Linked DNA regions of Homo sapiens: all the other regions are linked to region 1. The links come from fine-mapping of genetic effects on gene expression. A gene starts in region 1. Each other region holds a variant in brackets. All regions are shown on one strand. Distances are between the middles of the regions. Region 1 holds the start of OTUD7A (OTU deubiquitinase 7A). Region 2 has its middle 61 kb from the start of KLF13. Region 3 overlaps OTUD7A (OTU deubiquitinase 7A).

What was found. PIP is the estimated chance that this variant, and not a neighbour inherited with it, causes the effect.
Region 2: its variant is the best candidate, but not a certain one, in a credible set for the expression of OTUD7A in whole blood (TOPMed, PIP 0.56).
Region 3: its variant is the best candidate, but not a certain one, in a credible set for the expression of OTUD7A in lung (GTEx, PIP 0.65).

The regions. Positions count from the first base shown.
Region 1 is chr15:31,869,115-31,873,114 of GRCh38, reverse strand. It overlaps OTUD7A (OTU deubiquitinase 7A), which reads left to right and starts at 2,442. Exons shown (of 13, transcript NM_001382637.1): 1 at 2,442-2,608. RefSeq lists a silencer at 2,410-2,479.
Region 2 is chr15:31,385,572-31,389,920 of GRCh38, reverse strand. It overlaps a transcript of KLF13 not described here. Among named protein-coding and RNA genes, the nearest start is that of KLF13, 61 kb to the right of the region's middle. The variant A/T (reference allele first, on the strand shown) is at 2,654.
Region 3 is chr15:31,496,941-31,501,289 of GRCh38, reverse strand. All of the region lies in intron 10 of OTUD7A (OTU deubiquitinase 7A), which reads left to right. Among named protein-coding and RNA genes, the nearest start is that of KLF13, 170 kb to the right of the region's middle. The variant A/G (reference allele first, on the strand shown) is at 2,030.

The DNA of each region.
Region 1 (4,000 bases):
AATGATACAACTACATTTTACAGAAAAGCAAACAGATCACCTAATAGCTCTGTATCCACAAAGAATCAATAATTAATGAAGTCTCAAAAAAATCACCAGATTCAGATGGTTTCACCAGGGAATTTTACCAAACATTTATGGAAGAATTGATATAGGTTCTTTACAATTTCTTACAGAAAATACAAGTAAATATTACTTCTTAACTCATTTTATGAGGCCAGCATTACCGGCATACCAAAATAAATTAAAGACATTACAAAAAAGAAAACTATAGCCAAATATTTCTCATGAACATAGATGCAAAAGTCTTCAACAAAATATTAGCATATTGAATACAATGGTGTATAAAAACAATTATATACCATGCCCAAGTAGAATTTGACCCAAGTATGCAAGACCGGTTCCTTGAAAATCAATTGAAAATCAATGTAACCCATCATATCAACAAGCTAAAGAAAATAAAATCACATGACCGTATCAATAGATGCAGAAAACGAATTTGGCAAAATCCAACATTCATTCATGATAAAAACTCTGCAAACTAGGAATAGAGAGAACTTCCTAATCTTGATAAAGAAGAACTAAAAAAATCCTACTGCTAACATCATATTTAGTGGTAAGAAACTGGATACTTCCCCTAAATTCAGGACAGGACTGTTAAGAGAATGAAAAGACAAGCTTCCACTGGAAGAAAATACCTGCAAAACACGTATCAGATAAAGTACTTCTATCCAAAATACACAAAGAACTCTTAAAACTCAACCATAAGAAAACAACCTTTTTTTTTTAATGGGCAAAAGATGTGAACAAACATCTCACCAAAGAAGATATACAGGTGCATATGAAAAGTTGCTCCACATAATTTTTCAGTAGAAAATTGAAAATTAACAACGATATAGCACTATATGCCTACTAGAATGTCTAAAATTATAGATGATAGACGGATGGATGGATGGATGGACAGATAGATAGATAAAGATAGCCAATATCAAGTGCTGGTGAGGATGAAGGAAAGGGATTCATATTTGCTGACAGTTATAAAAATGCTATAGCCACTCTAGAAAACTGTTTGGTTCTTATAAAGTTAAACAAATTTACCATAAGATCTAGCAATTGCACTCCTAGATATTTAGTCAACTAATTTAAAAAATTTGTCCGTACAAAACGCTGCATGCAAATGTTTATAGAATGTTTATTCACAGTCGCCAAAAACTGGAAACCACGCAAATATTCTCCAGTGGGTGACTAAACAAAATGTGGTACAAATAATGAGACTCCCCTCAACAATAAAAAGGACTATTACTATACACAATAACATGGATGAATCTCCAAGGTATAATGATGAGGGAATAAAGTCAGTTTCAAAATGTTACATATTGCGTAATTCCATGTATACGACACACTCACAAAGACAAAACCGTAGCAATGGAGAACCTATCAGTGGTTACCAAAAGTTAGGGTTGGCGGGGGCGCTGTTATAAAAGGGCAGAACTAGGGAGCTCTTTATTGCGCTAGTGGTTACATGAATCCAAACAAGGGTTCAAGATCACAGGATTATATATCAAATAACCAATTTTACTGAATATCAATTTTAAAAGTCAAATAAATTATTAAACACTATTAAACATATACAATGTTTAAAGTCAAGCAAAAAGTCCTAAACTAAAAGTAAAATAATGATTGTTTAGAAGTACACCAGGATGGTATGGGTCATCTGCAATATAACGTCCTGTTTGGGATAAGGAAGCGTGACTACATCTACAGGGTGACGTGAGAAGGGCCCAGAGCAGCGAGCAGGTCTTGCCATCAGGGAGGGGAACCATCTGAAGGGGTGGCGTGAAAAAGTCTTTAGAGGAAGGCAAAAAATGGGAAAAGGTCAGAGAACCTTTTTGGGAGGTAAAAGGACCAGCTTTGGATTAGGCGTGATGCACAGGCCCCAGCGCAGGGCGTAGAAACTGCAGCCTGGACAGCCTGGGTGGGAGAAAGTTTGGGATGTTTAGGAAGGAAGGGTGCGCCAGCCAGGGGGAAGAAACGAGACAGGTGGCCGCAGATGGCGCGAGTCAGGCAGCAGGAAAAGGCAGGCTGTTTAAGCAGCCTTTTCCTGCAGTCCAGGCGGAGAGCGCAGAAGGAGCACCCCGAGGGGCAAGCATGGGAGAGCCGGAGCGGGCTCGCGGGCGCGCGGGCGCTGTACGTCCCCTCCTCGGCTCGCGGCCGCGAGCACGCGCTCTCCGTGCCCGGCCCCGGAGGGGCGGGGGCGGGGCACAGGCGCGGCGCGCGCACGTCCGCGCGGGGCGGGGGCGGGGCGCGAACGCGACCGGTGACGTCAGAGGAGGGCGCGCGCCCGGAGGCAGCAGGCGGAGCCGGGAGGCGGGCGTTGTGCGCGGCCGCGGGCGGAGCGGAGGGGCGCGAGGGGCGGAGCGGAGCGCGGGAGGAGGCGGGGGAGGAGAGGCCACCGGGACCGCGAGCGGCAGCTGGGGAGGGGGCCGCGGAGCCCGAGCGGGAGCAAAACAGCTGATCTGGTTTTCCTTTAAAGCGAGAGAAAATGGAAGTCGGGTAGCGGCGACTGCGGCGCTGCGGGCTGGCGGAGCGGAGCGGCGCGGCGCGGCAGGTAAGACGGCGCTGGCCGCGGTGCTGCCGGCGGGCGGCGGGGCCGGGCCCGCGGACCAGGCAGGTGCGCTCTCCGGGCGCGGGGCCGGCGCCGTCTCCTTCCCGAGCTCCGTGGCGAGGCAGGTGGGCGTTGAGGCCGGGCGACCGCGGGGCCGGGGCGCGGGGACGCGGGGGGCGCGGGCCCCGGCTGGGCTCGCCGGCGCGTCTGCATTGCGGGCTCCGCTCCGGACCCCGCGGGCTCCCGGGCCACCGGCTCCGGCCCGGCGTGGCGCGCCTCTCTCGGGCAGGGCGCGGCGCTACCGCTGGGTCGGGGCTGCTGCCTCCGCTCAGCCCTTTGGCTGTCCGCACTGGAACGTGATGCCAGGCGTGGGGCGACCGACCCCTCGGTCCGTGCGCGCGCGTCGGGGGTCCCGCGGCTCTTGCAGACGGCCGGGCAGGGCCCGGCCCCGAGCCGCGCGCGAGGCCGCTCGCCGGGCACCGGAGCTGTGACTGCGTGGGTCCCCGCGGCCCGGCGCACCGCCGTCCCGCTCGCTCTGCTGGGTCTCGCTGGACAGCAGGCAAACCATTAAGGCAATTTGGCTGTGAACCCAGAGGCCTTCCCTAGTATCTCCTCACTGGAGGGGAAAAAATTGCATCTGCGGTGCTTTAAGTGCTCCTTTAAATTTGGGAGATGTCAGTGATGTCATCATTAACTAAAACTTTCCTTCATTGGACACAACCGCTCAAGTGTACCCTCCTCCCTCCCGGTGAAGCTATTGCAGCCCTTTGAGAATCTCTGTAATAAAATGGATTTGCCTCTGCTCTGTAAACTCAGCTACCTCACACAAGTGCAAATGACTTTTATTTCTGTCTATTGGCTTGAGAATGTATAGATTTAAGAGTAGCTGAAGGGAAACTTGTGAGACCCCGATCAGGGAAACGCTTCATCCACAGCACAAGGATCCAGGGGAAAGTCATGTATGACATGCACATGGTTACCGCCAGGTGATACCTTTGTAAATGGAAGTGGGCTGTAAGAGGAACAATTTTTAAAAATATGATGAGGCAGATAATGTGTCCAGGAAAAGGTTGACAGCGGGGCCTAAATCTTTACAGGTCTTAATTGCTTCAGGAAAATCTGCAGGTGTCCTTCACCATCCTCCTCCTCCTCCTCCAGGGTGTGCCCGGAGAAGCCTGCCCTGGGCGAAGGCGGGGAGGCAGGTTCACTAGGGTCCTCCCAGCAGCCGTGTGTCCCACCAGCTTCAAAGGCCTCTTCAAGACCCAAAGAGGGTTCACGAGAACAGAGGTAGATCTGCACGGCACACTCAGTTCTGGATAAACATTCCCCACTAAATGGGATCAACACTCCATTATTTTATTGTGAGTGTGCCATTAGTACCAATTCTTATGGGAA
Region 2 (4,349 bases), 480 kb after region 1:
ATGCTAAGAATATCTTCCTTGTGTGGTTGGAGACGGTGGTGGTGGTGTTGATGACTTTAGGCCCATAGAGAAAGAAATGTGCCCCTGGCCCAGCGGTTAGCTGTGCAGTGAGTAACATGTAACAGTGACATGCCCAACTGCCTAGGGGTGTAGAGGCTCCCACTGTTGCAGTTCGAATCCACTGGGCTCCACTTTTACTATAGACTAAGCTGCAAAAGTAAAGGCTGAGGAGGATGGTGTTGTGGGACCTAGAGAGAGTGGATAGCAGAGGCCATCCTACTCCCACCTTCCATGAAGGGGAGTCAAGATGCAGACCAAAGGTATGGTAGTAAATATAGGGGAGTAAGAGCTAATGTAAAGTTTCAGAGAGAATCTGCAGAAGAGTTAAAACACTCCTCTAATGTAAACACAGGGGGAGGAGGGAGAAGGTGCAGAGGGTAGAGGGGACTGGAGGTAATTACAGTTGATGCTTGAACAACATAGGGGTTGGGACCGTTGATCCCCTCCCCCATTGAGTCAAGAATCCACATAAAACTTTTGACTCCTCAAAAATTTAACTACTGATAGCCTGTTGACGAGAAGAAGCCTTGCTGATCACATGAACAGATAATTAACACATCTTTTGTATGTGAGATATATTCTGCATTCTTACAATATGGTAAGCTAGAGAAAAGAAAATGTTATTAAGAAAATAATTATAAGAAAGAATATATTTAGTATTCATTAAGTAGAAGTGGATCATTATAAAGGTGTTCGTTCATTCTCATTGTCTTCATGTTGAGTAGGCTGAGGAGGAGAAGAAAGAGGAGAAGCTGATCTTGCTGTCTCAGGGGTGGCAGAGGCAAGAGAAAATTTACATGGAAGTGGACCCACGCAGTTCAAACCCATGTTGTTCAATGGTCAACGGTATTCATCTTTCATATTAGGAAGCCAGTGTATTTTGTCAAATACTCATAAATCACAAAGTAGGAGGACAAGTATTTTATTAACACTGAAGGGAATAACGACAAAAACAAATTAAAAACAGAAGCGATAAAAAGTTTAGTCCCCTAAAAAAAAAAAAAAAGTTTAATCCCAAGGTGGTAGAACTGGTGTGTGTGGGGGGAATGGGTAAAGAGACATTCTTATCATTAGTTTTTTTTTTTTTTTTTTTTTGGGATTTTTTAACCTTGTTCGTATGTATGATTAGAATTCCTGAATTTTAAAAATAAAACCAACAATCAAATTACTTCCAAAGTCCTTGAACATCATGACTCAATACTCCATAAAATAAACATATTTTACTGGTTTTCTTTTTCTTTTTTTTTTTTTTTTTGAGACAGAGTTTCGCTCTTGTCACTCAGGCTGAAATCTTGGCTCACCGCAACCTCCACCTCCTGGGTTCAAGCGATTCTCCTGCCTCAGCCTCCTGAGTAGCTGAGAGGGATTATAGGCACGCACCACCGCACCCGGCTAATTTTGTATTTTTACATGGAGAGACAGGGTTTCTCCATGTTGGTCAGGCTGGTCTTGAACTCCTGACCTCAGGTGATCTGCCCTCCTCAGCCTCCCAAAGTGCTGGGATTACAGGCGTGAGCCACCACACCCAGCCTTTCTGTTTCATTTTTAAAATCATTTTCACTGGCACTTTCTCAGTTTTACAACTGTCACCAACTGTACACAGAGCATGCATTCTATACCCTAGACATGAAGGGAAAACAAACAAACAATCAAACAAACAAACAGTTTCTAATGCTTACCTAAAGTTACAGTGCCAGCTGATGAGAAGAATAATAACCACCCAGGCCCATCATGTTCAGGCACTTCCAGGTACCAGGACAGATGACTTCGACTCCTTCCTGACTCGTGGCAGCATCCTTACCTAGTCTCAGATCAATGAAACCTGTTCTTGTTTTAAAGGCCTCCCAGCAAGGAGCTCAGCCTGTCTCCTCTCCGGCTGAAGCAGTTCTATTTTTATTCCATGCTGTTTGATGGCTCATGTCCAAGCCAGTGGCTGTGCTCCAGGTGCCAGACTCCCTGGCAGCACCCCTATTATGGGACAAAGCTCTGCCTGGTCCAGGCAGCAACCTGGTCACAGCCTGATCACAGGCTGGTCACAGCCCTGTCACGGACATCTGTGCACACTTCAATCTGCCCGTTGTAGGGACAGCCTGCAGGCCTGCCTGAACCTGGCCAAGCCCTGATAACATGCAGGAACCACATCTGTGAACCATGTCACAGACTGTCAAATTGTCAAACATTTCACACCTACAGTGAATACAAAGAAAGGAAAAACAAGCCCCACTTTTCCCACCACCCAGTTCTCGTACAGGCAGACCTCAAAGATATTGTGGGTTTGGTTCCAGACCACTGCAATAAAGCAAATATCACAATAAAGTGAGTCACACACATTTTTTGGTTTCCCAGTGCATATAAAAGTTATGTTTAAACTATACTGTAGCCTATTAAGTGTGCAATAGCATTCTGTCTATAAAAATAATGTACATACCTTAATTTAAAAATACTTTTTTTGCTAACAAATGCTAACAATCATCTAAGCCTTCAGCAAGTTTTGGTCTTTTTCCTGCTGGAAGGTCTTGATTCAATGTTGATGGTTGCAGACTGATCAGGGTGGTGGTTGCTGAGGTTTGGGTGGCTGTGGCAATTTCTTCAA[A/T]TAAGACAACAATGAAGTTTGCCACACCCAATTGACTAGTCTTTTAGTGATGGACTTCTCTGTAGTGTGCAATGCTGATAGCATTTTACCCACGGTAAAACTTCCTCCAAAATTGGAGTCGGTCCTCTCAAACCCTGGCACTGCTTTATCAACTAAGTTTATGGAATATTCTAAATCCTTTGCTGTCATTTCAACAATGTTCACAGCATCTTCACAAGGAGTAGATTCCATCTCAAGAAACCACTGTTTTTGCTCATCCATAAGAAGCAACTCCTCATTCATTCAAGTTTCATCGGAAAGGAGTCTTTTTTCCTGAGCAGTAGATCTCAAAGTGGGCTTAAAAATATTCAGTAAACCATGCTGTAAATAGACGTGCTGTCATCCAGGCTTTGTTCTTCCATTTCTAGAGCATAGGCAGAGTAGATTTAGTGTATTTTTAATGGTCCCAGGATTTTCCGAATGGTAAATTAGCACTGGCTTTAACTTAAAGTCATCAACTGTGTTAGCCTTTAACAAGAGAGCCAGCCTGTCCTTTAAAGCCAGCCATTGACTTATCTCTAGCTTTGAAAGTCCTAGATGGGATCTTCCTCAAATAGAGTCAGTTTCATTTACATTGAAAATCTGTTGTGTAGTAAAGCCACCTTCATCAATGATCTTGGCTAGATCTTCTGGATAACTTGCTGCAGCTTCTATAGCAGCACTTGCTGCTTCATCTTGCACTTTTATGTTGTGGAGATGCCTTCTTTCTTTTTTCTTTTCTTTTTTTTTAAGATGGAGTTTCATTCTTGTTGCCCAAGGTGGAGTGCAATGGCACGATCTCGGCTCACTGCAACCTCCGCCTCCCAGATTCAAGTGATTCTCCTGCTTCAGCCTTTCAAGTAGCTAGGATTACAGGTGCACGCCACCACGCCCAGCTAATTTTTTGTACTTTTAGTAGAAACAGGGTTTCACCGTGTTAGCTAGGCTGGTCTCAAACTCCTGACCTCAGGTGATCCTCCTGCCTTGGTCTCCCAAAATGCTAGGATTACAGGCATGAGCCACTGCGCCCAGCCTAATACTTTCTTTCTTTAAACCTCATGAATAAACCTCTGCTAGCTTCCAACTTTTCTTTTCTAGCTTTGTAGCTTCTCTTAGCCTTTGTAGAATTGAAAGAAAGTTAGGGACCTTGCTCTGAATTAGGCTTTGACTAAAGGGAATGTTGTGGCTGGTTTGATCTTCTATCCAAGCCACTGAAACTTTCTCCATATCAGCAATAAGCCCATTTCACTTTCGTATCATTCATGCATTCACTGGAGTTAACACTTTTAAGTTCCTTCGAGAACATTTCCTTTGCATTCACAATGTGGCTAACTACTTGGCACAGCCTACCTCACCTTTTGAGACTTCCTCACATGGCTTCCTCACTAGCTTAACTATTTCTAGCTTTTGATTTAAAGTGAGAGACCTGTGACTCTTCCCTTCACTTGAACACTTAGAGGCAATTGTAAGGTTATTAATTGGCCTAATTTCGATATTGTGTCTTAGGGAATAGGGAGGCCTGAGGAGAGGGAGAAAGACAGGGAAAGGCAGGTTGGTGGAGCAGTGAGAACACACACATTTATCAATTAAATTTGCCATCTTATATGGAAGTGGTTCATGGCACTCCAATTACAAGAGTAACATCAAAGATCACTGATCACAGATCACCATAATAGAT
Region 3 (4,349 bases), 370 kb after region 1:
CCACATTCATTCACAGATGCATCATCTGTGGCCGTTTTTGCACTACAGTGGTAGAGAGAGGAGCAGCCACAGACACCAAGGCCTGCAGCGCCTAAAATATTTACTTACTAATTAGCTATTTATGGGAAGAGTTTGCTCACCCCTGCTCCAGGGTAAGCTTTTAACTCAAAAGGTCAACATTTCCTTTCAAAGCATTGCAGCTGAGTTTCCTCTAAGCAGCCATTTCAGTGCTGCTGATGTTGGGCCAGCCCACAGGCTGTGCACTGCACAATTCCAGGGCACCAGTCAATGTCTTTACTGGGGAAATAGGGGGATTTTGTTTGGAACAATTGCTGTTTTCTCATGTTAGCTACTGATGGATGTGTGACCAGCTGAGTGGAGAGGAAACCCCTTCCTGTTGTCATTCTTGTTTGTAGTATAGGCAGAGACTCACTCCCCCAGGGGACAGACGGACAGGCAAGACCAACTATTTCAGAGTCCCTGCCATTAGGTATGGTCCCAGAGAATGGGAAGTGCCCTGTCCAGGGCCAACAGGGGGAAGGAAGCTCAGGGGTGTCTGCTTCTGACCTTTTCCACTGAGTGTGCAGCTCAGGAAGTAAATATAGCAACAAGATTGCACCCCTAGGACTCCCAAATGCTACTCCTTCCTGTAGACAGCTGGGAAGGAAAGGACACAGACAAATGAACAGAACCCAGCCTCCCCCAGCCCTCCGCCAGAGGCGGCACCAGCGTGTCACTTCCTGGCCTGGCAGTTGAGTCGGGAATGAGGCTGGGGCTGTGGAGCAGAAGCTGAAGGTGAGAAATGCACAGGGCATTTGAGACCCCTTCCCAAGAGCAGATGCAGAGCTCCCAGGAGCTGACATGCGTGGTGCAGCCGCAGAACCCAAGTCACAGGAAGAGAGACGACTGGAGGCTACAGCCGGCCGTGACAAGAATGTCACATCATGGTTCTTTATTATTTGCAGATGTGGCACTGGCCACAGAAGGAAAGATTTAATCAGTAAGGCCTCGGAGGTGCTCCGGTCTTTCCATTGTCTCCCCACTTTCAATCCGGAATGCGGAATGCCTGCACCTCCTTCCCGGGGATTTAGCTCTTCGTAGGGCTGACCCCGCCTCTTGGGAGACCAGAAGGGCCTTTTCAGGACCTGGGATCGGCCAGGGGCGGGGCCCTCTGTCCAGTCCCCAGGGAGATTCTGTGGTCAGAAGGTGATGGTCCCAAGGCCAGCGTCTCCCAGTTCCGAGCATGGGGTTCAGATACCCGACCCCCTCCTCGCAAAAGGCACCGAGTACTCTTCCAGGCCTTCCAGATACTGCTGCTTGGTGTTTTCAAGGCACATATGAAAGCATCCTCCCTTCAAAGGATGCCCATGGAGGGCGCTGTGGCTTGGGACCTTTCAGGAGGGCCTTGCAGAGTTGTGGGTGGTTTCACTTCTGATGACCTGGTTTCTAAAAACTGGGATCTGGTCCCAGTGCACCTCTCAGAGCCACTGTGGTGTGGGTCTTTGGCTCCCTCACAGTCAAAGCAGCCCACTGGGATCCTCCTGGGGCGATGCAGGTCCCTGCCTCTAAGACCATCCTGTGGCCAGGCTGCACATTCACCCATAAGGTCCCCACGACCCACTGCAGGGCAGGTGCCATGGCCACGCTCTTTGTCACCTGCACCCTTGTGCCCCCTTAGACCTTCACCTCTGCAGCCTTCCCTCTGTGCCTCAAAGGACACTGTGGGGACGGGACAGAGTCCCAGCTGTGCTCTCAAGTCACACGACATCTCAGCAGAGAGGGACGTGGAAATCACAGTGAGGCTGCAGCTTCCAGGATGAGCTGCAGACTCAGGCCTGCTGGAGTGAGCTGGCCAGACCGCAAAGTCGCAGGACCTGGTGGGAGGCAGGAGATGGGAGACTCCAGAATATCGAGCCCCAGGATGCCACCGGCCCCCACTGTGAAGCACAGGTGTCACCCTCTGCCATGGTACCCTGTCCGTCCTATAAACAGCACCCTGTGACAGAGGCTAATAGATACAATAATCACA[A/G]GCCCCAGGAAGAGCAGACACCGCATCCTTGTGCCTGCGGAACGATGCTTTGAGAGCCTGGAAATGAGATAAAAAATGTATTTCAGGCTGAGACAAGGCTCCCTTCTTCCCACCACCCACTTCCTCCTCCTCTGTTTACATGCCCCATCATGTCTCATCCACATGTGTCCAGCTCCTGGAGGCTTAAAAATCCATGAAGCATTCTTTAAACTTCTCATCGAGTGCCTCTCCCTCTAAGGGAAGCCCCCTCTTATAGGTGCTACTGCCGTGGCCCGGCTACTGCTGATGCCGCCACTGACCATCTTCAAGTTCAGGAATCCTCCCATTTCCCAGGCTAGGCATGCAACATGGGGAGAGGGAAGGGCTTGAGGTGGAAGGTCAGGAGCTGGTGGGACTGGTCAGCTATGGGCAACCTCAGTGGCCCAGGCTTTGCAAATTTATCTTAGGACTTTTTAGATAAAATGTATGCATTCTTTCTTGGTAGCTTCCACACATGATGGTCACCTGCTTTCTCCTGGGGAGGACATTAGTCATTTGCTCCCTGACAACCTGAGCCTTGGGCCTTCAGCTTTTTGCAGGAAGCAGCCTCCTTGCAGCCACATCTTAAAATGGCCTGCAGGGGAGCTCTGTGAAACCCAGATCTGGGCATTCTCTCAGCACCCAGCTCAGGTCAGTTCCTACTGGCCACTGAGCAAATGTGTACATTATGAAAAATCAAATCAATTAACAGGAGAAGCAGAGGTGCCGCATAGTTCCTGGAAACATAGAACCTAGGAAAGAACTTTGGAATCATCCAGTGCAACAATCCCAACTCCCCTCCTTTTATAGCAAACATTGTCCAGTGTACTCTTCATTACCCTGAAATGAAATTCATGGATAATGTTACCTGTGTTGGAATAAAGTCCATTTAGTACCCCCACATCAGGAGAAATCAAAGGAAACCAATGTAATAAAATAATCTGCATTTCTGTAAATATTCTCACACAGCCATACTGCAAAACTCAATGAAGCAATCAGATCCTGGCACCCATATGTGGGGTGCCCAGTTACACAGAGAGGGGACACAGGTGTGCTGAGCATACCCTCAAATACCCCAGGAGGCTCTACAGTCCAAAATGGCAGCTAACTCTTGGTAAAGTCCCAAACAAGCCAAGCACAGCCTTGCCCATCTCCACAGCTCCTCTTCCCTTTGGGTGGATATAGAGCCGTGCAGAGCATACCCATGTGTACATGTTAGCTCTCGGCCTGGCCAGCAGGTTGCACTGGGAAGGGCTGGGTGCATACAGGTGCTGCCTAGGTCTGCACCCCACCTTCATGCTCATATATTTGCAGGTGCTTCCTGTGCTCAAGGGCTGTTCTAGGTCCTTTCCAGGAATACCTATTTAACCCTTCCCATTTCCTCTTCCCCACTTTACAGAGGGGGAAATTGAGAAAGGAGGAACCATCCCCAGGGAATAGTTGCAGCCAGTGAAGGGTTGGGAGGGTGGATGGCGAGGCTTCCACAAAGACTTGGCCCAAGAGAGTGGCATCTCCAAGAGAAGAGGCTCAGGAAGTGGTACCCCAAGTCAAAGCCTGCTTGGGATAAGATAGCGTCTCAGACCCAGGACTCAGGAACCTTCAGGGTCGAAGAGGGTAGGGAGGGGGTGCTTTGTTTCATGGAAGGTGTCAATGCCATCTGTGGCTATTCTTTTCTTAAAAATTAATATTTATTGGCCAGGCACAGTGGCTCACACCTGTAATCTCAGCACTTTGGGAGGCCGAGGTGGGTGGGTTGCCTGAGCTCAGGAGTTCAAGACCAGTCTGGGCAACATGGTGAAACCCCATCTCTACTAAAATATAAAAAATTATCTGGGCATGGCAGCATGTGCCTGTAATCCCAGCTACTCAGGAGGCTGTGACAGGAGAATCTCTTGAACCTGGGAGGTGGAGGTTGCAGTGAGCCAAGCTTGCGTCACTGCACTCCAACCTGGATGACAGAGTGAGACTTCATCTCAAAAAAAAAAAAATTAACATATAAGTCAATTATTTAAATAGTTTTTCCCTCATATATACAAACAGCCTGTGAGCCTCTGAGGCATATCCAGGGGCCACACAGAGGTCAGGGCACCCTCAGTGTGTCCTCAGTGCCTTCCCCCAAGGGTCCCACTTAAGGAACCTAGAGAGCAGCACACAGGAGCCCTGAGGGAGTCCACTGGTTACAGATGGAGGGGGAGATGCTGGTGTGAACAGAGAGCTCTGAAACGGCTGCAGACTGCAAGGATCGAGGCTTACAGATGATCACACCAAGGTTGGCCATCCCTTTATTGGGAACAGAGACTCA